Linked DNA regions of Homo sapiens. The protein of the gene in region 1 interacts with the protein of each later gene in a pairwise test. Each region holds a gene or a part of one and is shown in the gene's direction. Other genes may lie near its edges. The genes, in order: TULP3, GSE1, ZNF462, GPATCH2L, NOSTRIN, ZNF793 and PHAX.

Evidence for each region.
Region 2: the proteins of TULP3 (region 1) and GSE1 interact in a two-hybrid assay, tested with the Homo sapiens proteins (one large-scale study listed by BioGRID and IntAct).
Region 3: the proteins of TULP3 (region 1) and ZNF462 interact in a two-hybrid assay, tested with the Homo sapiens proteins (one large-scale study listed by BioGRID and IntAct).
Region 4: the proteins of TULP3 (region 1) and GPATCH2L interact in a two-hybrid assay, tested with the Homo sapiens proteins (one large-scale study listed by BioGRID and IntAct).
Region 5: the proteins of TULP3 (region 1) and NOSTRIN interact in a two-hybrid assay, tested with the Homo sapiens proteins (one large-scale study listed by BioGRID and IntAct).
Region 6: the proteins of TULP3 (region 1) and ZNF793 interact in a two-hybrid assay, tested with the Homo sapiens proteins (one large-scale study listed by BioGRID and IntAct).
Region 7: the proteins of TULP3 (region 1) and PHAX interact in a two-hybrid assay, tested with the Homo sapiens proteins (one large-scale study listed by BioGRID and IntAct).

Annotation. Positions count from the first base shown.
Region 1 is NC_000012.12:2,914,615-2,918,913, forward strand, and holds part of TULP3 (tubby-related protein 3), read left to right. Parts: intron 1-4,299. UniProt on the Homo sapiens protein: Negative regulator of the Shh signaling transduction pathway: recruited to primary cilia via association with the IFT complex A (IFT-A) and is required for recruitment of G protein-coupled receptor GPR161 to cilia, a promoter of PKA-dependent basal repression machinery in Shh signaling.
Region 2 is NC_000016.10:85,661,822-85,665,321, forward strand, and holds part of GSE1 (genetic suppressor element 1), read left to right. Parts: intron 1-1,159; coding exon 1,160-1,272; intron 1,273-1,522; coding exon 1,523-1,793; intron 1,794-3,193; coding exon 3,194-3,307; intron 3,308-3,500.
Region 3 is NC_000009.12:106,869,096-106,873,394, forward strand, and holds part of ZNF462 (zinc finger protein 462), read left to right. Parts: intron 1-1,849; exon of another isoform or gene 1,850-4,299. UniProt on the Homo sapiens protein: Zinc finger nuclear factor involved in transcription by regulating chromatin structure and organization. Involved in the pluripotency and differentiation of embryonic stem cells by regulating SOX2, POU5F1/OCT4, and NANOG.
Region 4 is NC_000014.9:76,210,460-76,215,180, forward strand, and holds the end of GPATCH2L (G patch domain-containing protein 2-like), read left to right. Parts: 3' UTR 1-3,884; downstream 3,885-4,721.
Region 5 is NC_000002.12:168,805,299-168,809,597, forward strand, and holds part of NOSTRIN (nostrin), read left to right. Parts: intron 1-4,299. UniProt on the Homo sapiens protein: Multivalent adapter protein which may decrease NOS3 activity by inducing its translocation away from the plasma membrane.
Region 6 is NC_000019.10:37,505,547-37,510,302, forward strand, and holds the start of ZNF793 (zinc finger protein 793), read left to right. Parts: upstream 1-1,392; 5' UTR 1,393-1,420; exon of another isoform or gene 1,421-1,761; intron 1,762-2,718; 5' UTR 2,719-2,857; intron 2,858-4,756. UniProt on the Homo sapiens protein: May be involved in transcriptional regulation.
Region 7 is NC_000005.10:126,599,181-126,604,219, forward strand, and holds the start of PHAX (phosphorylated adapter RNA export protein), read left to right. Parts: upstream 1-1,766; 5' UTR 1,767-1,782; coding exon 1,783-1,878; intron 1,879-4,389; coding exon 4,390-5,003; intron 5,004-5,039. UniProt on the Homo sapiens protein: A phosphoprotein adapter involved in the XPO1-mediated U snRNA export from the nucleus.

The DNA of each region.
Region 1 (4,299 bases):
TTTACCAGTTTCACTAGGATACTCTTTCTTGTTTTTGAGGAGAAGTCTTTCTCTGTTGCCCAGGTTGGAGTGTAGTGGCGCAATCTTGGCTCACTGCAACCTCTGCCTCCCAGATTCACGTGATTTTTGTGCCTCAGCCTCCAGAGTAGCTGGGATTAGAGGAGTGCACCACCACGCCTGGCTAATTTTTGTATTTTTCGTAGAGATGGAGTTTCACCATGTTGGCTAGGCTGGTCTTGAACTCCTGGCCTCAAGTGATCCAGCCACCTTGGTCTCCCAAAGTGCTGGGATTACAGGTGTGAGCCACCATACCTGGCAAGATACTCGTTTTCAGGGTATGTGGGCACCTTAGCAAGCTGCAGAATGGATTTTCTTTTCTTTTCTTTTTTTTGAGACAAGAGTGTAGCCCTGTTGCCCAGGCTGGAGTGTAGTGGCATGATCTTGGCTCACTGCAACCTCTGCCTCTCGGGTTCAAGCGATTCTTATGCCTCAGCCTCTCGAGTAGCTAGGACTACAGGCAGACGCCACCATGCCTGGCTAATTTTTTGTATTTTTAGTAGAGACAGGGTTTTGCCATGTTTGTCAGGCTGGTTTCAAACTCCTGGCCTCAAGTGATCCACCCATCTCGGCCTCCCAAAATGCTGGGATTACAGGCGTGAGCCACTGCGCCCAGCCCAGAATGGATTTTCTGATTCTTGCTGTGATATTTCTGACATGGATGCATATTAGGTAGAGTACATTTATTTCGTCTGATGAAAATGGATTAAAGTACAACATAGTTCCTTTGAGCCAAGTTGCTCATCTATTTGTATGATGAGAGGTCATCACTGCACTGAATGATATTTTAAGAAGTCTAGTTTAAAAATTTTAGTCTTACCTTCCTATGATCTTGCTTTGTGGGCGGGGAGATTAAGTTAGTTTTTTTATTTTGTTTTTTTTTTTTGAAACAGAGTCTCGTTCTGTCGCCAGGCTGGAGTGCAGTGGTGCAATCTCAGCTCAGGCTCACTGCAACCTCCACCTCCCAGGTTCAAGCGATTCTCCTCCCTCAGCCTTCTGAGTAGCTGGGACTACAGGCGCATGCCTCCACGCCCAGCTAATTTTTTTAATTTTTAGTAGAGATGGGATTTCACCATGTTGGCCAGGATGGTTTCAATCCTTTGACCTCGTGATCTGCCCGCCTCAGCCTCCCAAAGTGCTGCGATTACAGGCGTGAGCCACCGTGCCCGGCCGAGATTTTTAAACAAACTGATAGACTGCAGACAACTAGCCTGATGCTGGTTGTACTCTGTGGTTGGTCAGTCTGTTGGAAAACTGTCATAGTGTAACCTTAGCCCATCACCTCTAGGGTGACTCCTTGTCTAGGAAAATTGAGAATTAGTTAAACTATCATTAATTTAAATGAAGTTTTATTTATTTTGAGATGGTTGCTCTGTTGCCCAGGCTGGAGTGCAATGGCGCGATCTTGGCTCACTGCAACCTTTGCCTCCCGGGTTCAAGCAATTCTCCTGCCTCAGCCTCCCAAGTAGCTGGATTTACAGGCTTGTGCCACCACATCCAGCTAATTTTTGCATTTTTAGTAGAGATGGGGTTTCCGGCATGTTGGCCTCGAATTCCTGACCTCAAGAGATCGGCCCACCTCAGCCTCCCAAAGTGCTGGGATTACAGGCATGAGCCACTGCGCCGGTCAGAGCTTTATTATTTTATTGGATAAAGTTATTTCATGGAAATTTCCACCTATCTGATCTCCTTTAATTTCTTACTGTTTATTTTGACATCACCATTCAATATTTTAGCAGGATAGTAAGACATACCACTAAATTCTTGGGAAGATAGATTCTTTTACAGTTCAATTCCCAAGATAATTAGGAAATTTAAAAGTGATTAAGTTTTAGTTTATATGACACTTAAAATCACGAAGGCAGTGTGTTTTAATTGCATTTAGGGCATCTAACCATCAGCTCTGGCTTTCTTCCTGGCTCCCTGACTTACTCTATCTTGGTAATGAGTCCTTCATTGATGTAGCCTCGTTTAAAGCACTTTTAGGTTTTCAGGGAAGTAAAATATAGATGGAATAGGAATTGACATTGTTACATTCAAACACAAGTAGCACTTCTCTCCTCCCCCATCCAAACTGCATGACGGTTTTCACCAAGATGGCAGCTTGCACATATATGTTTAATGGTATTTTTCTTATTTGTAAACTTGGACAGTAGTAAGATCATTCAATACTGAGGTATAGTAGCTGTGGCCCTGATTACAGTTTGAGTCTACAGTTGTTTTTTTCTTAAGTCATTGGTCTAAATGAGTTTGATTTGTCTGTAAGTAGATAGAGAGAGGCTTCCCCAGATACCTTGGCAGGAACACTGTGGTCAGGGGTCTAGTCTCCCCTTAACAAGTGAGAGCTTAGTTTGTCAGTGAACTGGATATAACCAGGTCCTTTGGCACAAATTCACGCTAGTTAAACCCACACCAGTAAGTTTTAAAACCAGAACCCCAAGTTATTAATTTATAAAGGGAGCTCTACTCTTTCAGTGTGTATTCATGTCTACTGTTCATAATACTCTTTTCCTGGGAATACGATACCTAAGAAGTTAAACTTCAAATTAGAAGGCTTATTGGTGAGCAAGGAATCAGAGGGAATGAGGTCAGGAGTTTGAGACCAGCCTGGTCAACATGGTGAAACTCCATCTCTACTAAAAGTTTAAAAATCAGCTGGGCATGGTGGGGTGCACCTGTAATCCCCGCTACTCGGGAGGCTGAGGCAGGAAAATTGCATGAACCCGTGAGGCAGAGGTTGCAGTGAGCCGAGATCGCACCACTGCACTCCAGCCTGGGCAACACAGCGAGACTCTGTCTCAAAAAAAAAAAAAGATACTTCTCTTTCTTGGACAAACCTGATAACCCTATCAAATTCTAGCTCTTTGGCCTCCCTTTTCTAGACCACAGCAGAAAACTCCTTTTCTATAGAAAATATTTTCCTTGGCCAGGTACGGTGGCTCATGCCTGTAATCCCAGCACTTTAGGAGGCCAAGGCGGGCGGATCATGAGGTCAGGAGATCGAGACCATCCTGGCCAACACGGTGAAACCTCATCTTTACTAAAAATACAAAAAATTAGCCGGGCGCGGTGCCGGACGCCTGTAGTCCCAGCTCCTCGGGAGGCTGAGGCAGGAGAATGGCGTGAACCCGGGAGGCGGAGCTTGCAGTGAGCCGAGATCGCGCCACTGCACTCCAGCCTGTGTGACAGTGCAAGACTCTGTCTCAAAAAAAAAAGAAAATATTTTCCTTGCATGTGAACCCCATCTCTACTAAAAATACAAAAAAAATTAGCTGGGTGTGGTGGCAGGTGCCTGTTATCCTAGCTACTCCGGAGGCTGAGTCAGGAGAATTGCTTGAACCCAGGAGGCAGAGATTGCAAGTGAGTTGAGGTTGCACCATTGCACTCCAGCCTGGGCAGCAAGAGTGAAACTCCGTCTCAAAAAATAGCTACAGCATTCATTTTTGTTTTTGTTTTTGTTTTGAGACAGTCTCGCTCTGTCGCCCAGGCTGGAGTGTAGTGGTCCAATCTCGGCTCACGGCAACCTCTGCCTCCCAGGTTCAAGTGATTCTCCTGCCTCAGCCTCCCAAGTAGCCGGGATTACAGGCGCTTGCCACCACGCCTGGCTAATTTTATTTTTTAATAGAGACGGGGTTTCACCATGTTGGCCCGGCTGGTCTCAAACTCCTGACCTCAGGTAATCCGCCCACCTCGACCTCCCAAACTGCTGGGATTACAGGCGTGAGCCACCGCGCCCAGCCTACAGTATGTGATTTTGTTTCATCGATCATTTCACAGACTATGTATGAGATGAAATAGCTGTGGCCACATAGATAAGATATGGCAGTTTCTTATGATTTCAGTACTTCATATTTACCACCTTTTCAGGCAAGTTACTTTTTTTTTTGAAATGGAGTTTTGCTGTTGTTGCACAGGCTGGAGTGCAGGGGCATAATCTCAGCTCGCCGCAACCTCCGCCTCCCAGGCTCAAGCGATTCTCCCGCCTCAGCCTCCGAGTAGCTGGGATTACAGGCATGCGCCGCCACATCCGGCTAATTTTTGTGTTTTTAGTAGAGACGGGGTTTCTCCATGTTGGTCAGGCTGGCTTTGAACTCCCGACCTCAGGTGATCCGTCCGCCTCAGCCTCCCAAAGTGCTGGGATTACAGGCATGAGCCACTGTGCCCGGCCAGCAAGTTACTTTTTATCCATTATACAAGACCTCTTGGTTGCTAGAAGAATTTTTTTTTTTTTTGAGACAGAGT
Region 2 (3,500 bases), on another chromosome or scaffold:
GAGCCTGCATGCCAGCCACCTGCCCCTCTCCGTCCACTCCTGCTTTTTGCCTGGGGTAGTCCCAGGCCCCAGGTGGCAAGTGCACTGGCTTCTTTGTAGCAGCATGACACCCTCGTAGGGGAGGCAGACCCTAGTCCCCGTGCCTGTCCTGCCTCGATGCAAATTGTCCCAAAAAGCCAAATCAAAGCCCGCCTGTGAAGATAGTTCCGCAGACAAGCATGATGAATAAGTGATGAGCGGAGGCTAATAAGATAGTTTTAAATATTAATAGTGCAGCATAACAGGAGAGCCGGCCTGGGCTCAGCGGGGGCTCCACATACAGGGCCGCTGCCACGAGCTGCAGCAGGTGGGTCAGGGGTTGAGGACGCGGCGGCTGGCACTGCCCCGGGTCAGGGTAGGAGGTCAGGCACTTCATTCTTATTTCTGCTTGGGGGTGGGGCGTCCTCAGCCAGCGGCTCCCTGAGTTCTCCAGAGAGCCAGGAAGAGCAACCGAGCAGGCGAGAGTGTGCAGAGGGGAGCAGGGGCTCCAGCCCAGTTTTCTTCCTGATGCTGAACACTCAGGTCCTGTCCAGTGCTGAGCTCAGCCTCCTCTTCAATAGAAGCTGGGGCACAGGCGGTCTTCCTGGTTGTTGGTCTAGGCTGGATGGAGGGCCCAGCCAAATTTCTCTCCCCTACTCACTTTGTAAAGGAGGAGGGAGATACCCCAGCGCCCCTGGGCAGGGGCTCTGCTATTGTTCTCTGTGTCTTAGAGAGCTCAGGCCTGTGTGTGCCTGTCTCCTCCCAGGAGATGGACTCAGATGGCCACAGCATGGGGGAGTGCATGTGCACAAGCAGCCCTGTGTTGCCGTGGACACAGCCCCAGGCCTGTGTGATGAATGGTTCCCTGCCAGGGGGAGGAGGGAGGTCTTGTCAGCCCAGGGGACCACCCAGCTACTGGGAGCCATGGATCCCAGGGAAGCCTGGTGTCTGCGGTCCTGCAAAGCCCCAGGACTGGGTTAATGTTGGTTTCCACCTCGGTTGAAAGGAACTGGCCTTCAGGGTGTTCAGGTGCCAGCAGGCCTGGCCTGATAGGTGCTCTGCACACATGAGGCCCTGCGGGCATGTCCACTGGACAGATGAAGGCTCTTTGTCTGGCTGAATACAACCATTTCTCCATCAGGGTACTACTACGACCTCGATGACTCTTACGACGAGAGCGATGAGGAGGAGGTCAGGGCCCACCTCCGTTGCGTGGCCGAGCAGCCGCCCCTCAAACTGGACACGTCCTCTGAGGTACTGGGCTCTCCTCCCCACGGACATGCTCTGGGCTGGGCTCTCGTTCCTAGCGTCCACACCCTGCAGTCCACCCCACTGTTGCTAGGTTCCTCCGAAGTCCTGGCGGGTTCGCCCCATGAAGCTCTTCTCCCACCAGGCGCAGCCAGCTACGGCCCACACTTCGAGGACCCCAGGAGGGGACCCCGGGACAGTGCAAGCATACCACTGCCAGTGGCTTCAAACTCATTTGTTTTCTTTCCCAATCTAGAAGCTAGAGTTTTTGCAACTTTTTGGCTTGACCACCCAACAGCAGAAGGAGGAATTGGTGGCCCAGAAGCGGAGGAAGCGGCGGAGGATGCTGCGAGAGAGAAGCCCGTCGCCCCCAACAATTCAGAGCAAGCGGCAGACGCCTTCACCGAGACTGGCGCTGTCTACCCGCTACAGCCCTGATGAGATGAACAACAGTCCCAACTTCGAAGAAAAGAAGAAGTTCCTGACCATCTTCAACCTGACCCACATCAGCGCTGAGAAGAGGAAAGGTAGGGCCTCGCCTGGGTAGGAAGGTGGGGGCTCACTGGGGTGGAAGTGGGTTTCTGAAGCAGCAGGTGGGGCCGGTGGACTCCAGGCAGGATCTGCGATCACTGAGCCTGAGGCTGCCCCTTTACTCCTCCCGGCTCCCGGGAACAGCCTCTCTGTTCTTACAAGCCCTCCATAGCAGCCTTACCTGACAGGCTTTGCTCTGAGAGCCCCACCATCTTGACCTGAGGACTACCCATGTCACTCATCCATCTCCCAGCGCCCGAGAAGGCGCTCTTTGAGCCGAGTGCTCCAGTGACCACCAGGCGTGAGGGGAGGTGCCAGGTGTTCCAGGTTTGTCTGCTGCAGGCTTTTCCTCTTGCTGGACCGCTTAGGTGGTCTGCTGGGTGTTGTGTCCTGGTGGCCGGAGGCCTGGGGAAGGGCTGCCAAGCAGGGCAGCACACACTGAGCAGATGGCTTGCCTTGAAAGATGCTTCCAGTTCAGTCTGGCCACACAGGGCCACATTGGGACAGACCCTCTGGGCTCGAATCCATATAGCAGAAGAAACAACGCAGCCACAACACCTGCTCAGGGTTTTGGCTTCCTTGGCCTGCAGCGCAGGCTGGCTTGGTGCCCAGATGTTGACGTTCCTGGCCCTGCCCCTTACGCACGCTTTCAAGTCCTCGTGGGCCCCTGGCCTCCTCTCTGGGAGAAAGTCGAAGGAAAGCAGAGTTACTTCTTGGACCTTGAGCAGCTTCAAGGTGTTGATCAGGGTGTAGCCGTTTACTTTCTCCTTTTAACCAGTCAGTAGTTTTCCCTTTCTCTTAGCGGGCTAGTGACGTGTTGATTGCCAGCCCAGTTCCCTAGATACAAAGCATCTTTTTCCCTGAATTTTTGGAGGAAAAAAAATTAAGGGCGATGCAGCCCTTGAGTTTCACAGTCAAGAAGGGCCGGGTGACATCAGGGATCTGCTGCGTGGAACATCGTGGGGTCATCTTTCCCCTTCAGGAAGTGGCAGTAATGGTAGGAGTGGGGGAGAAGGCACCCTGCCTCAGAGGCCAGGCCTGGGTCTTTGGGGTGTTTCTTTGTGTTGGGGCCACCTTGTCTGACTTGAAATAAGAATACATCCTCGCACGTCACCACCGAGGTCCGTGGGCACAGTGATTCACAGAGGCGTCGTCACCGCACGGACAGCTGTCTTTGGAGCACGTCTAGGACATTGTGTAGTGGATGCCGAGAGCAATCTGGGCTCGCTTTGAGATGGTTGCTTCCTTTCAACTGGGCCTGCCCCATCACACCTGCTTTTGGTTTTTCGGGCTTTAGTGCTTTGCCTGCCCCTCAAGGCTCGGCTAGAATCCCGCTGTCCTTCTCTCCAAAAAATGATGCAACTGGCTCGTTAATCTCAGGCTGCTTTTCTCATAGACAAAGAGAGACTTGTTGAAATGCTCCGTGCCATGAAGCAGAAGGCACTGTCAGCAGCAGTGGCCGACTCCTTGACAAACTCTCCGAGGGACAGTCCTGCCGTCTCCCTGAGTGGTAAGGGAAGGATAGCCCCACCTGCCACCACCCAGGACCATCCCATGGGCTGCCCAGGCTCAGAGGCGACCACTCGAGGTCTTCATCATTGTGAATGTGGCCTCCTGCAGGCTGTCTTCTTCCATTCTTGTACCAGCGTACGATTCTTGCACAGTTGTGACAGTCATTGGGACGGAACGTCAGTTTGAAGGCG
Region 3 (4,299 bases), on another chromosome or scaffold:
GTGTGAGTCTATTGCAACTTACAATAGTGCCCACAATTGGACTCTGAGGATCTATTTTGCAACGTGGTGCAGATTTAAATTGGCTCCTTTCAGAGATGCCATTTTGTAATACTGATGAATGGCTGAGAGGGTGAAATCCAGTCTGAAACAATTACTGGTGGTTTTCCAATGTTCTTACTCATTCAAAATGTGCCCTCCGTGTATCTTCTTGGAGCCCAACTCTCTTGCAGACTAATGGCTAACCTTTTCCCATTTTCCCAGTATACATGAAATCATCCTTAAGATGACTTTTAACAACACAGACATTTAACCATGAGCAATGGGACAGTCCTGTAAGGAAGGGTGCAATGGGTTTCCACTTCTGTCTCTTCTTGGATGAGCAAAAGTGATTTTGTAAAGAAGAAGAGTGATGTTTGGAAGTTTCCACATTTTCTAAGCTCCTTCCAAACGAATGCATCAATTTTTAATCCAGGAGGCAGTCTGGAGAAGGTAGTGCTGGATGTGGACTTCTGGCAGAAACACAGTTAACGCTGTAAACAGTTGAACCTCAGTGTGGCACTCCTCCAAATGAGTTGACTGTCGAAAATAAAATGTTCCAGAAGAACTGGGAGAACAGGAAAGAAGTTAAAACAGCATGGTTTGCATGCCAGTACTAAAGGAAGAAAAAAAAGTTTGGGTTGGGAGGGCATTGGAGAGAAGATAATTGTAAGTTGAACTGTCTCTTGGATTTATAAGACCCAGGAGAAGTTTCCAAATGTGGGAAAATGGGTTTTTATGAATTTAGATTGTATTTGCAGTATGCTAGGAAGCTCTTTTGGATTTTTTTTTTCCCCTTGAACTTTGCATTTGGAGAACTGCACACACTGATAAAAGGGAAATCCATTGGAAGCAATTTGGATTTACATTTTGTGCTTGGAAATGCTATCATAAAATTTATCTTTTTTCTAAGTCCTCCTATTCTCATCAGCTGAAGCACGTACAGGATTTTTAAAGTGTTTGGATGTGTGATTCCAACACAAAGTTAATTATTTTCACGGCTTAGAAGGACAAAGGATAGAGTGGTGTGGTGTGAGGAGGTGCTAGTATTGTCACCTACAAATGCATTGCCTTTTACTTCTGGTGAGCACATTACTTGGTGTCTTCAAAGCATTCTTGCCTAATTCCTAGCTGGAGACATTTTTTCTTGAGTTATTCTTGGAGGGAAGGTTTTTTTTGTGTGCCAGGTCATGGGTATTTTGGTATTGATTTCCTTGCTTTCATGTGTTTGCTTGTTCAGTTCACTGCATGTTGCTTCTGGATATTAATAAAATACTTGTGCTGCGCCTGTCCACATCTTACCCCCAACCTTATTCAAAGAGTAGACCCTGTTCTTTAGGGTGAAAGGAAGTTTGACAGGTACTTATTTGTTCAAAAAATAAATACTTGAAGATGAGAACTGTGTAATTCAGGAAGTTATTTGCTAGACCTTCACATAGACAAATTTTAACAAAGACCACACCAGGAAAAATGGAGAAAATTCTACTAGGAACCAATAGATCCTGATTAGAATGTTTTAGGATCACTTAGTAGGAAATTAAGCATTTGCCCAAGATGAGGAAGCGAAGTCTTACCTTTGGGTTCAGCTTGGTTGGAGCACAAAAGGAGCTGTAGGCCCAGGTGAGACAACTGTGTCAGAAGTAATAAAGCCCAGGATTTGTGGAGAGAGCTTAGCCGCCACAGAGCCCAGCTGGGGAAGGCCAAACTCACTCTTAAGTTCTCGTCTGAGCAGTTGAACCAGAACACACGCTAAGGCCTCCAAATTTTGGAATTCTTCTTTTTCCTGTTCAGATTTAAGAAGGTAATGCCATTATTCTTCAGTTTTGCTCATGTCAGCTGAGTGTTTCTCTTTTGAACTGGGAAATGCCAGAGGCTGGGGGGTGGGAGCCGATGTCCTCTAAGGGAAAATTCTCCCCGTTAACACTGCAAATGTGCCTTAACATTGTACTTATTCCTCCAAAAATAATTGTTCAGTGGCACAATGTGGGATACTTGAAAGATGTTTGCTGCACAAAGGTTCCAATACTTACCTGCAGATTAAGAAATGAGTTTCTAAACCATCTCATTTCTATTGCTAATGAAAAGCTTTGGAAGGCACCTGTGAATTAGAGCTCCAGCTGCTATCATGGTAGGGAAGTTAGGCCTTGAAAGGATACGTGGATTAGCCTGTCAGAAAAGCAAACAGTAGCATCAGCACAAGTAGAAAATAGACAAGGTTGTTAAAGCTAACAGGAAAGTAGGCTAAAGCATTGCTGTAATTTTATAGTGGAAATTTGCTGGGAAGGAGTGACTGGTTGGATGGGAGAAGGAAAAGAAGAGAAGCAGGAAAATAATTGACTAGCCAAATTGAAGAAGTCTGTCCACTGGGGAAGATCCTACAGGAAGAAGTAAGGCATTGCTTTTAAGAAAGCGATTATAGCAAGTAGAAAAAGACCTTGTAATTTGGTACCTAACACATGTGAAATATGAAGACCAGTGCTCAGGTACACATTCTTTGGCCAGTTCCTATTGTAAAAAATAGAATTGGGTTTGGAGGACAATTTATGTGACTTTGGGGTTACAATTACAGCCTTTCTGATAAAGGACAGATGGAAACTCAAGGGAACTGGTTAAGTAGGCCTAGGTGGAGATTTTCCTGGAAAACGAACGAAGTAGAGAATAGAGCACAGCAGAAAACAGCTGCATTATTAATGGACAGAAAATGTGATAGTCCTCTCTGAAGTGATCCATAGAGCTTCTCTACCTACACCCTGGGTGTTAGAAGAAATGAAGAACAAAGACATGCCTTTTCAGAGGGGAAAGGAATGGACTATGACTACTACCTGGCGTCAGTTTGGGTTTCAGCCATTGACTTGAGCCAAGCGTCACAGGCTGGTCTGTCCTTCCAGTCCCAGCATTTTAAAATCCAAAATAAGGCCACTGTGGTCCAGAATGTTTAGCCATTCTAATCCCTAATTACATCATCCCTCTGTGTTATGACTAATTAGTCAGCAATTGAGCACCAATCATTCAACCCAGATTGCCATGGGCCTGATGGAGGGTCCTTCGTTTGGGGTACAATTTGAATGCTGGGTTATAGCTGAAGATGACCAAAGATAGATACCAGCTACAAGTACTTATCACCCAGAATCTTTTCTCTTCAGTGGTTTCTATCTTAAATAGTCTTCTCTGAAGACTAATTAGTATTTGATAACAATAAGTGAGAAGGGAGTCTTTGTAGAAGAGACCATTTTCTTTTTTCTTTTCTTTTTGGAGACAGTTTTGCTCTGTCTCCCAGGCTGGAGTGCAGTGGCACGATCTCCACTTAAGCAACTGCTGCCTCCCAGGTTCAAGCAATTCTCCTGACTCAGCCTCCCAAGTAGCTGGGACTACAGGCACAAGCCACCATGCCCAGCTAATTTCTTGTATTTTAGTAGAGACGGGGTTTCACTGTGTTGTCCAGGCTGGTCTCGAACTCCTGAGCTCAGGCAATCTGCCTGCCTCGGCCTTCCAAAGTGCTACGACTACAGGCATGAGCCACCATGCCCGGCCTCAGAAAAGACCATTTTAATTTAAATATCGGAGTTCAGTTGCAAGAACTTCCCCCCTTTCTGCTGTCAATTGAATATTGTCTGTTCTAATACTGGGTAAGAACAATAGAAAATAAATATGATTGCTTCATCAAAAAAATCTGCCAACTCTATAGAGTGGGAATACCACATAGGACCTTAAAAAATGCTGTCTTCCCTCGTGGACTGACTCATAGTTAATACTGGACAACGGTTTTTATTTTTTTTTAACATTTAATATGAACCAGGGACTGTTCATACGGTAGAGGAAACTGAGGTTTAGGGAGGTAAAGTAATTTAGCCAAAGTCATGAGGCTGCAAAGTGGGGGAGCCAGGATTCACATGGAGTGGGGACTGCCTCCAGAGGCCTGGCTCTCAGCTGATGGGACCCGGCCTTGGTTATTACTTAGTCTGCTAATAGCTTATGTTCTTGATGGTTTATCTCTTCCAGTTGCTTATGCCAGGAGTATATCCTTGGAGTTCTAGAAGGAAATCTGAGAATAATGGAAAATTAATTGTAATATATTATTTGATATGAGAGATATAACTTATTGCAATAGCTTGAGGAAGTGTGTTTAACTTAAGAGCGCCCTTTTCTGAATTGTAGAGGAGATGATAGGGAAAAAAAGCAAGACACCATGTAGGGGACACTTTAGGAAATAAACATTTTAAAATTATATCAAACTCAGAAAAAAAGGAGCCACCTACCTGTTAT
Region 4 (4,721 bases), on another chromosome or scaffold:
ACCTCTTTATTGACTTGTTTGTCCTGGTGGGCTGTTTCTCTACCAGGCAACTGTGAATGGGCTCATCCCTTCTCTGTGCGTACATGATTGAAAGGAGATAGCCGGTTTCTGTGACATCCTCTTATAACAACCTAGTTTTGTTCTTGAGAGTGACCAGAGCAAGAGAAAAGTCAATGAAATTTTGCAGATCTTGCAAACCTGTGGCAATAAGAAGGTATTATCCTTTCTGTACCAAGGCACAACTGATTCCTAAGTGAGGGGGATATGTGTTCTGAGATGTTAATGTTAGTGATAGACTGTTTTCAACACCTTGGTAAACATTTCTTTTGACTGTTAGCAAAAGCTGCCTTAACAGTCTTGGCTTTTAGAAATGCCCCTTCATTCATTAGATGTGTATGGAACACATCTTATGCCAAGCACTCTGCTAGGAGCTGGGTATACAGAGAAGAAAGGCATTCCTGCTCTCATGATGTTCATGGTCTTCTGCGGAAGAGACCAGAAAAAAAGTATTACAATGTAGAATGAAATAAGAATGACAGGGTATTTTGGCAGCAAGGAGGAGGGCACTTTAACTCAAACTGGGCAGTGGAAGAAGTAAAAAAAAACATTGAAAGAAATCCTGAAGGATAAGCAGGAGTTAAGAAGAGTGGATGAAGCCCTCCAAGGGTAAAAGCATGGTTTATTCAGAGCACTGCAAGTGTTTTAGTATGGCCCACATGTAAAGCTTACAGAGGAACAAAGAGAGAAAGGCAAGAGCCAGGAAGTGAAGGGTCCTGTGTATACTGGCTTACTTGTTGAGTTGGAGAACTATTGCCGTATTCCTCTGCTAAGCTCAGGGTGCATTCGTGGAAACCCTACTGCAACTGGCCCATTGTGCATACAAAGCTGGAACTGAGATGTGAACAGATTTGCATTGCCTTGATCACCTTCCGTGGGAAATATAGCTAGGCCCACTTATTGGTAGGAGCTACTGACATGTTAAAACTAGGTTAAACTGAATTGGAAGTAATGGTGTATTTGGAATCATGGCTGACTGATTCCATTACATGTTCTAGCATGATACCAGTCTGAGGTTATTCCCCTTGAACCACCGACTTAGTAGAGTTTAATGCACAATGTGATGGTCTTAGTTCCTTGTACTGTTCTTCAGTGTCAAAGTTGTTCAACTACCAGTTAAGTTTTTTGGGCTTTGTTTCTCAGTAGTGACAATAAATTTGTGTTGATCTATTTACACCTTTTGGACTGAACACCTTAGCAATCATTGATATTTTAAGCCTACAGGAAGTGCCCATGGGATAAAACCAATCTGCTGGCTCACACTAAGTTCTGATCCCATGATTTTGGTCTCATTAATACCGTGCTATAAATAAAGTTAGCTAAATCTTTTGAAACTGCATAAAAGTGAAATAATTATGAGTTTTGGGCCAACATTTTTCCTGAACAGCTTCTGACTGACCAGCATTTTAAATTAGGCGATGCAGTCTAGCTTTTGTACATAGAAATAAGAAAGTGACTTATGTTCCATTATTAAAATAGTATAGGGAGGACAGGTAAATTACTAATTTTTCATTGCTCATAGTAGAGAATTAAGGTATATTGACTAGTGAAATAGAGGATTATGGGGATCATATGAAAATATGATTAAAGAGATTATCACTAGAAGAAAAATTCAGACTGCTAATTATGAGAAAAAACATGTATGCACAACCAAACAAATCACAAAAATGAAAGATGTCTAAAACCATAGAATAGGAACAAATGTACCTGTCATATTAATAAAAGTAAACTTATCTGTAGATAAAAGGCAAAAATGTCAGCAAACACTAATTTCATGTTATAAGATTCAGAAAGGTTGAGCAAAAGTAAACCAAGCAAACACAAACAAGAAAATGAGTTGTAGTCTGCATATCAGGCAAGGTTGAACTTAGGGAAAAGGAACCGGAAAAAAAAAAACCAAAAAAAACCACGACATAATGCTAAAGGGTGTGACTCACGAGATAATGTTTCTAGATATCTGTGTACCAAATAATGGAAAACCATTTATGTATTGGAAACCATAGGAGACACAGGAAGAAACAAATACAATGTTAGTTGGATATTTTAATTCAATTCTGTCAATTCATGACAGATCAAGTGGATAAAAAACTAGGACATGGGATGATTTAAATAAGATACAGAAGATCTAGTTGATGCATATTAGACTTTACCCTAAAAGTGGTAACTACACTTCAAAGTATCCATGAAACATTTCCCCATTTGACTGTGTATTAGAGCGTACAGAAAACATAAGTTTCAGAACGGAAAAAAGGAACAACAGATGGCATTTGCTGATAAAAATGCAATAAACTTAGAATTTGAGGATAGGTGGTCAGAAAAAAAAATGCAATAAATTAAAGCCAGAAAACACTGCTCATCTGCAATCCAAAATGTTTTTAAGCTCTTCAACTATTCTTGGGTTGATTAGGAAATGCAAAGTATTAAAAAAACATTTCATATCTAAAATATAAACTTGTTCCTCTGAGATACAAATAAAACAGTGCTCAGAGGAAAATTCATTGCCCTAAAATTTATGTATTAAAAAATAAGATAAATGTCATATAACTCAAAATATTAGGAAAAGGAATCTTTTAAAGGCAGGCTAAAAGAATCAAGAAAAATTAATTAGAAAAATGAGGAAACAAAGCTAATTTTTAAAATATGTAGTAAAATATGTAACATTTTAGCTAACATTACAAGAGAAGACAAACACAAAATAAGAATTACCAAGTATTGAATAGGTAAGAGTCATAAAATATTCTTTGCTCAACTGTATGCAAACAATTTAAAAACTTGGATTAAATGGATAATTTTCCAGGAAGGTATAGTTTGCCAAAAAATGACATCAAAAGAAATCTAATATAACAATTGTCATAGAAGAAATGAAGTAAGTATTTCAATTAGCATGACAGACTAAATACTTTTAAAGACCCAATGAAAACAAAGAAATGCATTTGGAGAATTAACAGAAACTTTTTGTAACACCAATTTTTTATTTTACATTTTAAAGCATGGAATGGAATTTATTGTAAAGACGTGTATTTTATAGAATCCAAGCAAAAGCTCACCAGCCAGAGATAAAGTGAGGCCAGCTCAGGGAATGTGAGCAGTGGCGATTTATTCCCTCTGGTGTTCCATGTTAGCCTGACACAGAGCCCCCTCTTCACATTCTCAGGGGCTCTTGATCCAAAACCTTTTTTAAAAAAAATAATTTTAGACTTAACAGAAAATCTGCAAAAATAGATTTCCTGTGTGCCCTTCTCTCAGCTTCTTCTAATGTTAACTTACATACCAATGGTACAATTATTGAAACTAGGAAATTAACATTGGCACAATCCTATTAACTACATACTTTATTTGAATTGTAGCTGTTTTCCCAGTAATGTTGTTTTTCTGGTTCGGTATTCAATCCAGGATCCATATGTACTTGGGTCTTTCTGGGTTTTCTGTTCCACTGGTCTACTTGTGCATGGTACCACACTGTTTTAATTATAGAGACTTTATAGTATGTTTTAACAACTGGCAAGGCTAGTCCCCCTTATAATTTTTCCTATTGTGCTTCTGGCTATTCATACATGTTTGTTTTTCCATGTGAACTTTAGTATCAACTTGTCTAAATTCATTTTTTAAGGTACATTGGTATTTTATTGATATTATATGATATTAACTGATTTAGAGAGAACTAACATCTTTAAAATGTGGTGTCATCCTATCCAAGAATAGGAGATGTATTTCCATTTATTCAAGTCTATTTTGTGCCTTTTAGCAGTGTTTTAAAATTATCCTTGTGTAGGTTTTGTGCATTTCTTGCTAAGCTTATCCCTAAGTATTTAATTTATTTGCTAGTAAATGAGATTTCCTCTGCCATTATGTCTTCTAACTGGTTATTGCTCTCTATATAAAAGCTACTGATTTTGTATGCTAATATATCTTGCTACCTTACCTAATTTTTTTAAAAAAATAAACAACAGAAATTTATTTCTTATGGTTTCACAGTCTGGGAAGTCCAAGATCAGGGTGCTGGCTGATTCAATGTCTGGTGAGAGCTTGCCTTCAGGTTCATAGATGGCACCTTCTAATTGTGTCCTCACATGGTGAAGGGAACTAGTTAGCTCTCTGGGGTCTCTTTTATAAGGGCATAAATCCCAATCACTAGGGCTCCACCCTCCTAATCTAGTGACCTCCCAAAGGCCCTGTCTTCAATGCCAACACTTTGGGGGTTAGGATTTCCACCTGTTTTCGGGGGACACAAACATTTATACCATAGCAGTCAGTAACAAACTCTTTTTGTTTTGCAGCCAAAGGTCAGTCAGTTTTATCTTCTTAGCTTAGTATAATCTAAGCCCTAAAACCATGAAATGCATGGGAAAGGTTTTTTTTTCTCTTTTTCAACTTTTATTTTAGATTTGAGGGGTGCATGTGCAGGTTTGTTACCTGGGTATATTGCGTGATGCTGAGGTTTGGGGTATGAATGACCTGTTACCCAGGTACTGAGCATCCGTACAGAATTCTTTTACTTTTGAAGTTAGTTTTATCATTGCTCCTCTAGAAAAACAAACAAAAAAACCAAAAATTATTTCTAAACACCCAGAATAATAATAAGAAATGAAAAAAATCTATAGAAGTAAAAAATGACAGACATTTATGCAGCCAAAAAACACATGAAAAAATGCTCATCATCACTG
Region 5 (4,299 bases), on another chromosome or scaffold:
GAGTGTCAGAACTTATTTGAAAAAGATATCTGTAAGATATCTTTAAAGTTCTGTTTTTGACAAGGAAAAGAATTGGCTCTGGGCCTTGATGTTTCATTGCCTATGAAGGTTTAGGTTTAGCTCTTAAACCTAAAAATATGTCTAGGGAACTCATCTTCAAATCCATGTGCAAGAAAGGCGAAGTAAGATCCAATTATCTCTAAGGGAAAGAATCCAATCATAAGAAAGTATTAATAGCACCTTCCTATCAAACAATCACATAGAAATCAAGGACAAGTAACAAGCTGTAGCCAAATTTTTGCTTTTTACACACTCATACAGTATCCAGGAAGGGGTCTGTCAAAGCAAGTCTTCTGGGCGCCACACAGTCAGCCCCTCCCCGCATGTCATCGGCCATTGAAATGGCACCAGGCTGCTCCTCAGGTTGGTAACCTGGCTCAGATGCCAACCTGAGCTTCCCATCTTGGTGGCTTAGCCTGGATATCAGACAATGACTGTCACTAACTCAGATGGTGCCGGTGCCATGGTCCGTAGCTCCTAGGAGAATCTGACTCGCTGCAAAAATACAGAAGGAGGCTGCATATGGCATGGGTGTCACGTGGCCCACAGCCTCCCCAGTGTGCATCAGTGAGATGTGTAACATGCCATTCCACATTTCTTGGACCTCTGTTTCCTTGTGTGTAAAGTAAAAGGAGGAAAGGATGGAGTAGACTATGCTCTTTAATGTTCCATATCCCGTAATCTATGACAGTCTGCCACAGGGATTCCAAATACTACGCAGATGGTGAACAAGTACATGGAATCCCTTCAGAGAGGGGCAGTGCTTTGAAACATCACCCCCAGTGAATCAGAACTCACATGATATCAGTAGCACAGTGCCTGGCGTAGTAAAGGCAGTCAGCAAAGTTCATTGTGTTAAATTTAAGGGGAATATCATGGTTTCTTTAACACTGTGAGGATCATCACTAATCAAAAAAAATCCTTCTGTACTAGCATCAATAAAAATAAATTTTTCTATAACTTTTTCTAGAACTAAATTTAACCCTCTTAATCATTCAAGCAGAAAGAGCAGGTGGGCCAAGCTTGATATAGGCACTTTATAATCTTTACAAGTCGCCTGTCTAAACATTTCATGTGCTGACTGGCTGGATTACTAAATGTTTTTTGTAATGGCTATATTTATCAACAGAATTTGCTTACAAGTGCTGGGAAGAAACATTTTCCTAATGGCCGAATGGGAAATGTCTGTCAAATAGACCAGTTGTCTATTTGAGAAGGGGTTATTATTTTTTTAGGGGCTCAGGAAGATCCCAGGTATTCCACTACCAGACTGAAATCCCTTTATCAGGGGAGAAAAACCTCATCGTGTTTTTTTCCCCAATAATTAATGGTCCCCAGGAGAAGCAGCATATTAATATGAATTCATATGGAGATGTAGAATCAATAGTAGATTATTCCCTGGAATGAATATTTGATAGGGGGTTAGGATATTTAAAAGCTCAATGGGTAGGAAAAGAACACCAAAATTGCCTTCCACCTGACTGCACTTCTTCTCAGCAAGCTCTTCTTCTTGTGCTGGTTAATGACATCAAGAAGCCAGCTGTATTGCACATAACACTTAAAGGCTACTATAACTTGGAGTAAACTTACTGTGATTATACAGATTAGCCATTTATAAATGTATTTGTTTCTGATGGATTCTCTAATTGATTTTCATACCTAACATTTCTAATCACAACTCTGTCTCTAACTAATTAGGTTATCCTTATCTCTTTGGGTCTTAACTGTAAATAAGGGAATTAGACTTTGGTGGCTTGCAAACTGTGCTCCATGGAACCCTTTCAGAGTCCTCTCTGGTGGGTGGGAGTGTGGTGAGGTAGGAGTGAGACAACCAAAACTAAAGTCAAGTGATTTCACCCCCACAAAGCAGGTAAGTTCCAAGATTTTCTGAACACACACACACACATACATACACACACACACAGAGAGAGAGAGAACTATATGGTCTCTGGAAGTCTGCTGTAGCATTTAAGTGGGTCTGCTTTTCACAGTTTTTGTCTCCAAGTCTCAGTAGATGGTACATAATGAAAAGTACAGAATGATTGATTCTAAATAAGGGTTTATGCTGGGATAATGAAAATATTCTTAGCAAATCTTTTATTTATTGATGTCACCTTTATCTCAATCTGGATCAAGGTTTGTTGGGGGAATTTTTGGCGTATAGTATATAGGATCAAGGGTAAAGATTCTCTCCATTGCTCTTGTAAGCACATCTCTTATCTGATCGCTAAATTAACAACAAGTATGAAGATCTTCTCAACTTGCATGTGCCTGGGCATACTGGCGTTTGAGGTTTGAGGGTGGGTTACAGGTGTACCTTAGACACAAATCCTCTGCACCGTTGAATTGGCAGAGTATGGCTGGGAGCGAGGTACGAGGCAAAGCCATGGGCCAGTTCCCTCTTCCTGGAACAATTTTGTCCATTTACCACACTCTACCAGTACAAATATTTGCTATGTGCACCATTTTGGGACAAAAGTTAGAAAGTACTGGTCTATGAAATGACAGAAAATCATCTTCCAAAATCTAGACCTGGTAGCCCATGGGTCAATGGAAGCCATAGACTGTGCTTTGGTCCAGCAGCCCCTTACTTTAAGAGGTTGAATGTGAATGCCTTTGCCACAGGCTTCACCACTGCCACTGAAGGCAATTGAGTTTTCAATCACTGGCTTATAAACTTTCAGCATGGCCTAGCCTCCTAAAACTAGTTCCCTTGAGACAGTATTTAAAAATGTGTCTTAGGGAGTTTTGATGGCTTGATAAGTTTAGGAAATGCAGCAGCCCCTGTAACCCAAGCACATAGAAAAATTCTCAACTGGTTCTACTCATTTCTACATTGGTTATGAGCAGAGTTTTCTCTACATGCCCCCATTCCACGCTTGATGTCCAGGGTCCCTTGTTCTCTCCCATAGGTAACTTCTATGTGCAGACTATCCTGTGGTGATGGTGGACTGGTAGGGCCTTTCCCTTAGGACATTTCATCTCAGAGTCCCTTCCTTCCACTCCTGCTTCCCCTAATGGGAGGTTCTTTTTCTCCTTCCCACTCTAAATCCCTCGAATCCATCTCTCTGCTTTCTTTTCTCCCATCCTCAGCCCCAGCTTTATAGTGTGTTTGAGAGCAGAAGAATTTACTCCGTAAACATGCATCCAGGTCTTTCTCTCTTGCACAAGGCCCCATGGCTTTTTGTTGAGTCTTTGTTTCTGCTTTGCTGTGGGCTGGAGAGAAGTCAATAAGACAATACATAAAAATCCATAGCTTAATACTGTGAGATATTTCTAAATAAATCAAATAAGAAAGCCACAGGACCTATAAAGAAAATCATAAAATTTTATTGAACATAAAATAAAATTTGAACAAATGCAAAAACTTACTATGTCCTTGGATAGAAAGTCTAAACACCATTAAAAAGTCAATTTTCCCAAATTGATACATGTATGTAATACAATTCCAATTAGGATCCCAACGGGGATTTAAAAAGAAATGTAATTAGACAAATGTTCATATGTTAGAATAAATGCCTCAGAATAGCCAAATAAATTATGAAAAGGAAAAAAATAGTTGTTTAAAGAGAAAGCAGAAGCAAAGTGTTAAAATCTCTATAACTTAGGTAGTGAGTACATAATGTGTATTATTATTTTCTGTATCATTATGTTATGAAACATAAAAGTGTTTCATAATTCAAAGCAAAAAGACCCTGTATGAGTTAGAACTATGTTCAGCTGCATATTAGAAAAACCCCAAATACATATGTCTTTAGAAAACAACATTGTATTTTTCTTACACATAAAATAAATCCAAAAGTAGAGAGTTGAGGGCTCGTGTGGTGTTCTTCACAGCCATCAGGGACCCAGGCTCTTTTTCTCTTTCCACTCTGTGATCTTAATGCATTATGTCCAATCTCAATACCACTTTATGGCTTTGGCCTTCATTTTCAAGTCCAGAAGGAAGAAAAGAGGGCAAACAAGCCTTTACTGAAACCTCATACAAAACCTTCCCTCACATCTCCTTGGATAGCTTTCAGTCACATGGTTATAGATCAAAGGGGGAGGGAGGCTGAGAAATGACCTTATTTCAGGAGTATGTACCCCACTAAACATTTAGGCATTTTCTTCTCATGACACTGAGGTGTGTTTCATGGGATGCTATTAAGTATTATAGAAGAAAACAAAAGGCTTAGGGAGAAATCTAGTGGAAATGTTTAGGTAACATAGGAGTAAACAAAGAGGTTAAACAAGTTT
Region 6 (4,756 bases), on another chromosome or scaffold:
ACTTCTCTCAAAGTGGGGGCAGCAGCCTTTAAGACAGAACTCAAGGTGCCATTTATTATATTTAATCTCAGCAGTGACATCTATCACTGCTACTGCATTCTATTAGTCTCACAGTCCAACCCTGGTACAATGTGGGAGGGAACTACATAAGAGTGTGAATAGTAGGAGGTAGGAATCATTGGGAAACATTTTGAGGTCAGTTATTGTATCAGTTGCTAGGATGACCAGTTGGAATTAGGATTTTTTTAAAAAGCCATTTTCATAAGACAAGGCAATCTTTTCTAGAGATGTTCCAATACCTGTGATATGCGGAGCACTGCGCTAGGTGGTATTCAAGGCAGGCCTGTAGTGAATGCTGTTGGACCCAGCCACCACCCCTGAGCAATCATATGCAGACCGCTGGCTTCTTAACTGCAGACACCTACAGACTCAGCCTAAGACTTTCCCACGAGGCAGGCTCGAAGTGCTGGAGCTTTAACACCTCTGGAGTGGCCCTAAAACAATTAGGAAGAGAGATGGTGTAGACATATGTAAGCTTCATCGGCCTGGTGGTTGTGAAAACTTGGAAGTGGTTTCTACACAATCCCCCAGAGGTCCCAAGCTGACTGAGCCCTCATTGATCCAGAGCTAATCTGCTCACCTATGCACTGTATATTCGTTCCCATCGCTCCCGTCTCACTTCTCCATCCCCCACCTACCAAATAAACTGCTTGCACTCATTCTTTCCTCAGGTCGGCTTCTCGGGCAAGCCTCCTTAGGTAAAAACCTTGCTTTCAACATTTCCTTTCCATTATGCGCTAAGAACTCTGATCTCTTCCCGCTGCGGCAGCCCCGCCCTTTCCTTGCGGCTCCGCCCTTTCCGTGAAGTCACGCCCGTCCTTAGGCTGTCTCTGTCTCCCTAAGAGCGAGTCTCTTCGCTGCTCTCTAACTCCTAGAGCTGGCTCAGAAAGAGTTTCACATTGCCATAGGGGAGCTCCTAGGAGAGGCTGCACCCATTGCACGTAAGAAGCGGTAAAAATGTACGCGGCCATCTTACCAGGCTGCCGGAGACAAAGAAAGCTCAGCTTTGATGTCTGGGCGCCACCATGTTGGCCACAGGAGGTTTTGGCATCTGAGATGCTGAGTTAAGAGCAGAGACGACATCTCTGTTTAGGGATCCAGGGACACTTCCTTCTCCTTGTCCTAAAATAGCCTTATCTTTTGGTCTAGCAAAGGGCTTAATCATCCGTTTTACGGCACAGTTTTAAACATGGCCGCCCCAGGTAGGAGTCAAGTGGGCGTCGCCATCATACCTCCAATTACAGCTTTGAGAAACCCAGAATCCTGTTCACTGGAAGGTTGCCGGGTGGCGGCTGACAGCCTCAAAGTCGCAATTGAGTCTGCGCACCGGCCATTCAGGATGGGACGACCTTATACCGCGGTGAGGCGGCGTGGCAGGACGACCAATTTCAGATTCAGGGCGCGGATGCAGCATAAATGGGAAGGCACGGTTTGAGAAACGGTCAAACCTGGGACTAGTGGAGGATAGTGAGCTGCCGACTACGGTGGCCGACTGGGTCAGCTATGGGTGCCCGTGAGGGTCAATGACAAGGGAACTGAAGGGTTAAGAGATTCGGCGTCTGAGCCTCGCGGGGCCTCAGTGGTGGCGGACAGAGGTTTGCGGGAGTCAGTGGCACGGTCTCTGAAGAAGATGGATTGGGAGTGTGTGGGAATCAATAAATGCGAGTTCTGTGAAATGTCTTGATTTTCAGGGTGCATGGGGTCAGTAATAGTGGTCTTCATGGGTCTGGGGTCAGTTGGGATTTTTCAGACACTGGTTTAGAGATCTTTAAGGTTAATGATCGGAGCCCGAGAGGATCAGTGATCGGAGGTTCTAAGTTCTGTGGGCAGTAATAGTTTGGGTACTGGAATTGGTGATTGTGGAAACTTTGGGGTTCAAATGAGGGAGGTCAGTGGTGATGAATGTTTGGAGAAATGTTTTGGGCCATCGGTGATTGAGACTTACTTCATATCATCGGTGGAGGATCGGAGAGTATTAACGATTGGACTTTTGTAGATCAGGGAATGGAGAATAGAGTCAAGTGTGCTTATCTTAAAGGTACGCCTCAATGAGGCTCAGTGATTCGGACTGTCACTTGTGGGTGGGAGTGGGACTGTGAGAATCAACAATTGATCCTCAGTCGTTGGGATATCATTGGCAATCAGTGTGGATTCATGATTGGGGGCTGTGTAATTTCACTGGCAATCAGATCGGATCGGTGTTCTTTGTAGTTACTGACCTGTAGTCTCTCCTGGTCAGATTTGAACATAGGGGAATATCAGTGACTATGAAAACCTCTGAGGGTTGGAGATTGGAGGCCAGTGATTGGGGGCACTATGCGTGTCTGATTAGGAGACTTATAGGGGTTGGTGTTGAGGGTCCTGAAATGTGGAGATTGGGGATGGGAAAATCACAGATTTGAGGCTGCAAGCCTGCATAGCGGGAACACATTTCACTCAGGTGACACTCCCTAGCTGAATAGCAGCCAGTTCCTCTCCACCAAGGCCCATCTGAAAACTCTTTTTTGAACCCACACCCTTTTTATTGTTCTCTACAATAATGAAAATAATTTGAAAGGATCGCGTGCTAAACTTATCTAAAGTAACATGTTACTAAAGACGTGGCTTCTATTCTTGTTAGGGATCTAATGCATATTTTTTCCTAATGTTTCCTTTAAGGCTCTTTCTGGCAAAGGTAATGACATACGCATCTGTGCCAGCATCCCAAGAGTGAGGCTGGTTTCTGGAAATCCATTCTGACTCTGTGACAGCGGGGATGGATGTGACCTTGCCCGTGGTTAGAAAACAAATTTACTGAGTAAGTATCTAAAATGATAATGTAGGCTGTGTGCAGTGGTTCATGCCTGTAATCCCAGCACTTTGGGAGGCTGAGGTGGGTGGATCATTTGAAGTCAGGAATTACTAGCCTGGTCAACATGGTGAAACCCTGCCTCTACTAAAAACACAAAAATTAGCCGGGCGTGGTGGCGGGCGCCTGAGGTCCCAGCTACTCTGGAGGCTGAGGCAGGAGAATCGTTTGAACCCAAGAGGTGGAGATTGCAGTGAAACGAGATTGTACCACTGCACTCCAGCCCGGGTGACAGAATGAGACTCTGTCTCAAGATAAATAAATAAATATAAATAAACAAAATAAAATAAAATGATAATGTAAAAGATTTGGCTGAAAGAGCAAACAGAGTGTTTAGAAAATACTTTTATCTAGGCTCAACTTAAATTATCAAAGGAAGAGAAACTAGATTTGGAATTTATTGTATTCTGAGAAACTTTTTGCCTTGTCCTATATATTTTAGGCATAGCCATTTTTAACCTCCACTAATCAATTCCTTATAAAGTCCTGGCAGAAAAAATTCAAGACAGATAAAGCCACAACCGCCACAAAACAAAATGTAAGCTACTTTTAGAAACTGTTCCTCACTGAAATTAAAATTGAACTAATAGTTATTAAAATGGCTGAGATGGGATTGCAAATAAAATGGAAATAAGATTTGAAAAAATAGATTTAGGGGATATAAGTGCAGTTTTGTTACATGGGTATATTTCACAGTGGGGAAGCCTGGGCTTTTAGTGTAACTATCACTTGAATAATGTACATTGTACCAATCTGATAATTTCTCATCCCTTACCCGCTTCCTACCCTCCCTCCATTCAGAGTCATCTGTGTCTATTATTCTGCTTTCTATATCCATGTGTACACATTATTATCTTATAAGTGAGAACATGCAGTATTTGACTTTCTATTTCTGAGTTAGAAAATAAGATTTTGACCATTAATGAAAAAGTGCAATGTCAAAACAATATTTTAATTTTAAAAAATTATTACGTTTGATCTTTATGTAACCTTCAGACAAAGCACAATGCCTGTAGCATCTTAAGAAATAAAGGCAGCTGGATGCTAAGGCAGGTAACATCTTTCAGAACCCACATAGGTCAAATTTTAGTTTTAAAAGCAGATAGTCCCTGTTTTTCACTTGCACAGAATCAAAGACAGATAGCTGCTTAGCATGGGTGAAATAATAAGCCAGGGTAAGGAGTTTGGGTAATTTTTTCTCCATGTTGATTCCCTTCACCACCTATACTGTGCTCAGTGCCAGGTTTCAGAGCAAATAATTAAAAAGAAATTTTACATAAACTTTTTATTGTGATATATATGCAAAAATGTATATAAATATGTAGCTCAATGAATTGTCACAAGGGAATACCCCTGGGTAATGCACTCAGATCAGAAAACAACATTCTAGCACCGTGCCCTCATGATGCCCCTCCCAGTCACTACTCTGCCAGAGGTTCCCTAGCTTCTAATCTTAGTATTGTCTGTTTTTGATCTCTAATTTAATGGGATATTCATTGGGGGGGAGGAGCACCATGGGGAGAGGCAAGATGTGGCTGTGTTTAAACAAAATTTCCAAGTTTGAATTGAGATAATTTCATTTATATAACAGATACTTTTCCAGGTCATTAAATATTCCTTGTTTGGCCAGGCACAGTGGCTTACACCTGTAATCTCAGTGCTTTGGAAGGCTGGGGTAGGAGGGTTGTTTGAGGCCAGGATCTTGAGACCAGCCTGCGCAACATAGCGAAACTCCATCATTACAAAAAATTTAAAAATAAGCTGGGTAGTCTGGGCATGTTGGCTGATGCCTGTAATCCCAGCACTTTGGGAGGCCGAGGCAGGTGGACCACTTGAGGTCAGGAGTTC
Region 7 (5,039 bases), on another chromosome or scaffold:
CAGAAGCGGTTAGAGGTTCAGGTGGAACCATTGGTAGTCAGACATGCAAAATATCTGAAAAGATATCTCAAAACGCCAATCTTAGGGTCTACAATAGTGATATTATCTGGAAGAGTAATGGAAAAGTTGCATACCTTGTGACCTCTGGGATAATGACTGGCAACGGTTTATGTCTACACCTTAGCAGAATTCAGCCTCCTTTATCCGTCTACCCTGGTGGTCTCTTACTAGCTTTACAAAGGCGGTTGGCTTTTGGGGAAGGGTTATTATCATTTAAACTATAAACTAAATGTCTCCCAAAGTTACATTGACAGGCCCAAGCACAGGAATAATTAAGGGCAGCTTGAAGGCTAAAAGCAAGATAGGGGTTGGCTAGATCAGATCTCTCCCACTGCCATAATTTTCTCACTGTTATAATTTTCGCAAAGGCGGGTTCCAAGATAACCCTTAAAGAATGGGGTGGGTTGAGGGAAGGGCCTCTCAGGCCGAGTGAACAGCAAATGCAGAGGCCTGGCCTGAGGAACAACAGGTTCAGCGCGCCAGCGGTTAGGCAGGGGGACACACTAGGACCAGTGACCAGATGCCCAGTCCACATGACCTTGTTTGCCATGTGGCAAAGTAAAACAGAGGTTCCTCTTCAAAAACTTTCCTCCCCGTCTAATTAGGAATAAATAGTAACTTCTCTTAAAAGCAAAATTTATTCAAAGATCTGTGCTAACATTCTTAAATATCTGCTAGCCATAATAAAAAAAAATGTACTTTATGTTCTTAGCTCCCACAATTTAGCCTAAATATTTGCCCTGGCATGCTTTTACTAGTCCAAGCAAGCATTAGGTCATAGCCTGTTCCTCTTCCTTATTTAAAAGTGTTTTCATCTTTCTCAGCATTCCACAAGTTACTTCCTCCTTCCTTTGTTCTCCTCTACCTTTGCCTCTTTTAAAAAGTTCTAAGTTGCTAGCCAATCGGGACAAATACAAAATGTGAGGTCCGGTCCAGCCAATAAAAACCAGCCACAGCAGTAAGGTAAACACGTCAGGTTATAAATGACCCTGTCTCCTTTTGTTCAGTGTACTCTCCTGGCAAAACTGCTGGCGAGTGTACCCTTTCTGCAGAAAGTAAAAATGGCCTTATTCAGTAAGTTAAATTTATGTTGCTATTTCTTTACGACACCGGAAAACAAACATTTCAAACACCATGCTGAGAACTCAGTCCTTGTTTTGGGGAGGGATGCACTTGGAAGATTCGAGCTAAGGTACAATCCTCCCTAGGTATCCGCGGGTCATTGTTTTCAGGACCCCCACAGATACCAACATCCGCCATGCTCAAGCCCCTTACATTATGTGGGGGTGCACGGTGGGTCCTTCCCATCCGCAGGTTCGGCATCCGTGGATGGGGAGTGGATACAGAGGGCGGACTATACAGCTTGAAAGGCTTCCCTGGAAGCAATATGTAGAGTGGATTGTGGAGGAGCAAGAACAGAAGCGGGGAGGCTTGTCCAGAGCATACAGGGGAAGGATGTACGGCCAAGGGAGGAATCCCAGACGACCGCGATACGTGACATATTTATGTTTGCACGAAAATAAAGTTTGGAAGAAAAGTGTTGGGGGAACAAGGGATTCATTTTCCCGGGGTAGTTGGAATGCAATGGGACGCCTCAGGCCGCTGGGACAGGCTGGCCTCCGCGCGGGGGCGCCCGAGCAGCCGAGCCGCCGGGCCTTCCGGCTGCCCCGCCGGAAGTGCTCTCCTGACCCGCCGCTGTGCAGCGCAGCGCACCGCGGGAAGATGGCGTTGGAGGTCGGCGATATGGAAGATGGGCAGCTTTCCGACTCGGATTCCGACATGACGGTCGCACCCAGCGACAGGCCGCTGCAATTGCCAGTGAGTGTGAAAGGAGGGTGGGTGATCGTGGCTGGGCGCGCGGAGCCTGGGCCCCGGGGAGCGCGCAGGCAGCGGTGAGGGTGAGGGGTGGGAGCTAGGAGCCCGGGCCAGAGCGAGGAGCCCAGGCTGTCGGGTCAGTGGCCGCAGAAGGGGCGAGCAGACGTCCCCCAGGCGGGCTCACGGAGCCCGGGCTGCGGGGGCCGAGGGGCGAGGGGCGACGGCGGCAGCGGCAGCGGCTGGCCGTGCGAACCCCGAACTGGCTGCTCCCTGCGAGGCGGGGCGCGCGAGCCCTGGCGCCTCCTGGAGGCCGGCTTGCGGCGGCCTCTTAGACGTCTCACCTCCGCCTACCGCTCTTTCTTTTCTAAACTTGGGGCTTCCCCACTCCATCGCCGCTAGGTAACCATAAAGGGGCAGATTTTGCCAAATATGTAGCATCTAGGGACATCAGCCTGAAACAGCCTGTGATGCTCATTTTCTCCCTGAGCCGAAGGGAGACTGAGGCCCAGGAATGAAGTTTATCGCTCACTCAAAGATCTGGTTTTCCATGTTTCCACCGAACCTAGCTTTGTCATGCGGTACCATGGCACTAGGCTTTTGCATTAGCCTCTCTGATTTTGTTTGTTGTTTTGAGGTGGTCTCACGCTGTTGCCCAGGCTGGAGTGCAGTGGCGCGATCTCGGCTCACTGCAACCTCCGCCTCCCGGGTTCAAGCGATTCTCCTGCCTCAGCCTCCCGAGTAGCTGGGATTACATGCGCCCGCTGCCACGCCCGGTTAATTTTTGTATTTTTGGTAGACGCGGGGTTTCACCATGTTGCCCAGGCTGGTCTCGAACTCCTGACCTCAAGTGATCGGCCTGCCTCGGCCTCCAAAAGTGCTGAGATTACAGGTGTGAACCACGGCGCCCGGCCACATCCAGCTAATTTTGTATTTTTAGTTGAGACGAGATTTCTCCATGTTGGTCAGGCTGGTCTCGAACTCCCAACCTCAGGTGATCCGCCCGCCTCGGCCTCCCAAAGTGTTGGGATTACAGGCGTGAGCCACCTCGCCCGGCCTAATTTTTGTATTTTTAGTAGAGACGGGGGTTCTCCATGTTGGCCAGGCTGGTCTTGAACTTCCGACCTCAAGTGATCCACCCGCCTCGGCCTCCCAAAGTGCTGGGACTACAGGCGCGAGCCACCGCGCCCGGCCCAGCTTCCCTGCTTTCTAAACGGGAATTTGTCTTGACTGCCTTGGTAGGTAGCAACCTCTTTGAGAGGGCGTTGGTGCCAGGCTGCCTGTGTTCAGATCCTGGGGCCACCGATGTGTGACCTACAGCAGGTTTATTTAGCCTCACTGCTTTTTGTCTACCTCTGTGGAATTGGCATGATGTACCACTGATAGGGTTATTGCAAGGATTCTGTGGAGCATACAGTGTGCAGTAATGCCTGGTAAGTGTTATCTCTGATTATTATTTGAAGATAGGAAGATAGATAGTCCCAACTTCCATTTCTAGCGTAGTAGGAGTTTAACAAAGACAAATACTTGCTTTTGCATATAAATGTTTAGGAAATTAGTACCAAGATATTTTGTTTTTCAATCTCAGGTTGTTTTTACATAAATTGACCCATGACTTGGTAAATAAACTTAATGCCGTGGACTCTGGGGTTTTAAAAATATCTTGCCCAGGCTGGGCGCGGTGGCTCACGCCTGTAATCCCAGCACTTTGGGAGGCCGAGGCGGGTGGATCACGAGGTCAGGAGATCGAGACCATCCTGGCTAACGCGGTGAAACCCCCTCTCTACTAAAAATACAAAAAAATTAGCTGGGCGTGGTGGCGGGCGCCTGTAGTCCCAGCTACTCCGGAGGCTGAGGCAGGAGAATGGTGTGAACCCGGGAGGCGGAGCTTGCAGTGAGCCGAGATCGCGCCACTGCACTCCAGCCTGGGTGACAGAGCAAGACTCCCATCTCAAGAAAAAAAAAAAAAATACATGCCCAGCCTGGGCAACTTGGCAAGACCCCGTCTCTACCAAAAAATGCAAAAAAAAAAAAAAAATAGCTGGGTATGGTGAAGGTTGCCTGTAGTCCCAGTCCCTCAGGAGGCTGAGGTAGGAGGATCGCTTGAGCCTGAGAGGTGGTGAGCCATGATAGCTCCACTGCACTCCAGCCTCGGCCACAGAACAAAACTTTGTCTCAAAAAAAAAAAGTAACAATTATTATGTATGTCATTTTAAAACATTCTGACAGTAACTGAAAAGTTTGAAATCTTTTAAAGGTGACAAGAGCTTTGGTAATATAGTAGAAGGAGATCTTAGAACAAAGTGCTGCATTAGTTGTAAAGATAAGAATTTGTGGCTTTTAAATTGGCAAATTCCATGTGGAACTTAGAAAAGTAGGAACTTGATTGGTCTCAGATTTGTCTTTGAAGATCAGTTCCATTTTGGAATGGCAAAGTTGAATCTCTAAATTTTTAAAAATTAGGTAGGTGGAGTTTATGTGTTTTGTGAAATTGATTGTGTTTCTTTTCACTTGCAGAAAGTGCTAGGTGGCGACAGTGCTATGAGGGCCTTCCAGAACACGGCAACTGCATGTGCACCAGTATCACATTATCGAGCTGTTGAAAGTGTGGATTCAAGTGAAGAAAGTTTTTCTGATTCAGATGATGATAGCTGTCTTTGGAAACGCAAACGACAGAAATGTTTTAACCCTCCTCCCAAACCAGAGCCTTTTCAGTTTGGCCAGAGCAGTCAGAAACCACCTGTTGCTGGAGGAAAGAAGATTAACAACATATGGGGTGCTGTGCTGCAGGAACAGAATCAAGATGCAGTGGCCACTGAACTTGGTATCTTGGGAATGGAGGGCACTATTGACAGAAGCAGACAATCCGAGACCTACAATTATTTGCTTGCCAAGAAACTTAGGAAGGAATCTCAAGAGCATACAAAAGATCTAGACAAGGAACTAGATGAATATATGCATGGTGGCAAAAAAATGGGATCAAAGGAAGAGGAAAATGGGCAAGGTCATCTCAAAAGGAAACGACCTGTCAAAGACAGGCTAGGGAACAGACCAGAAATGAACTATAAAGGTCGATACGAGATCACAGCGGAAGATTCTCAAGAGAAAGTGGCTGATGAAATTTCATTCAGGTGAGCATTTGAATTACAAATAAGTACTTGACCAGA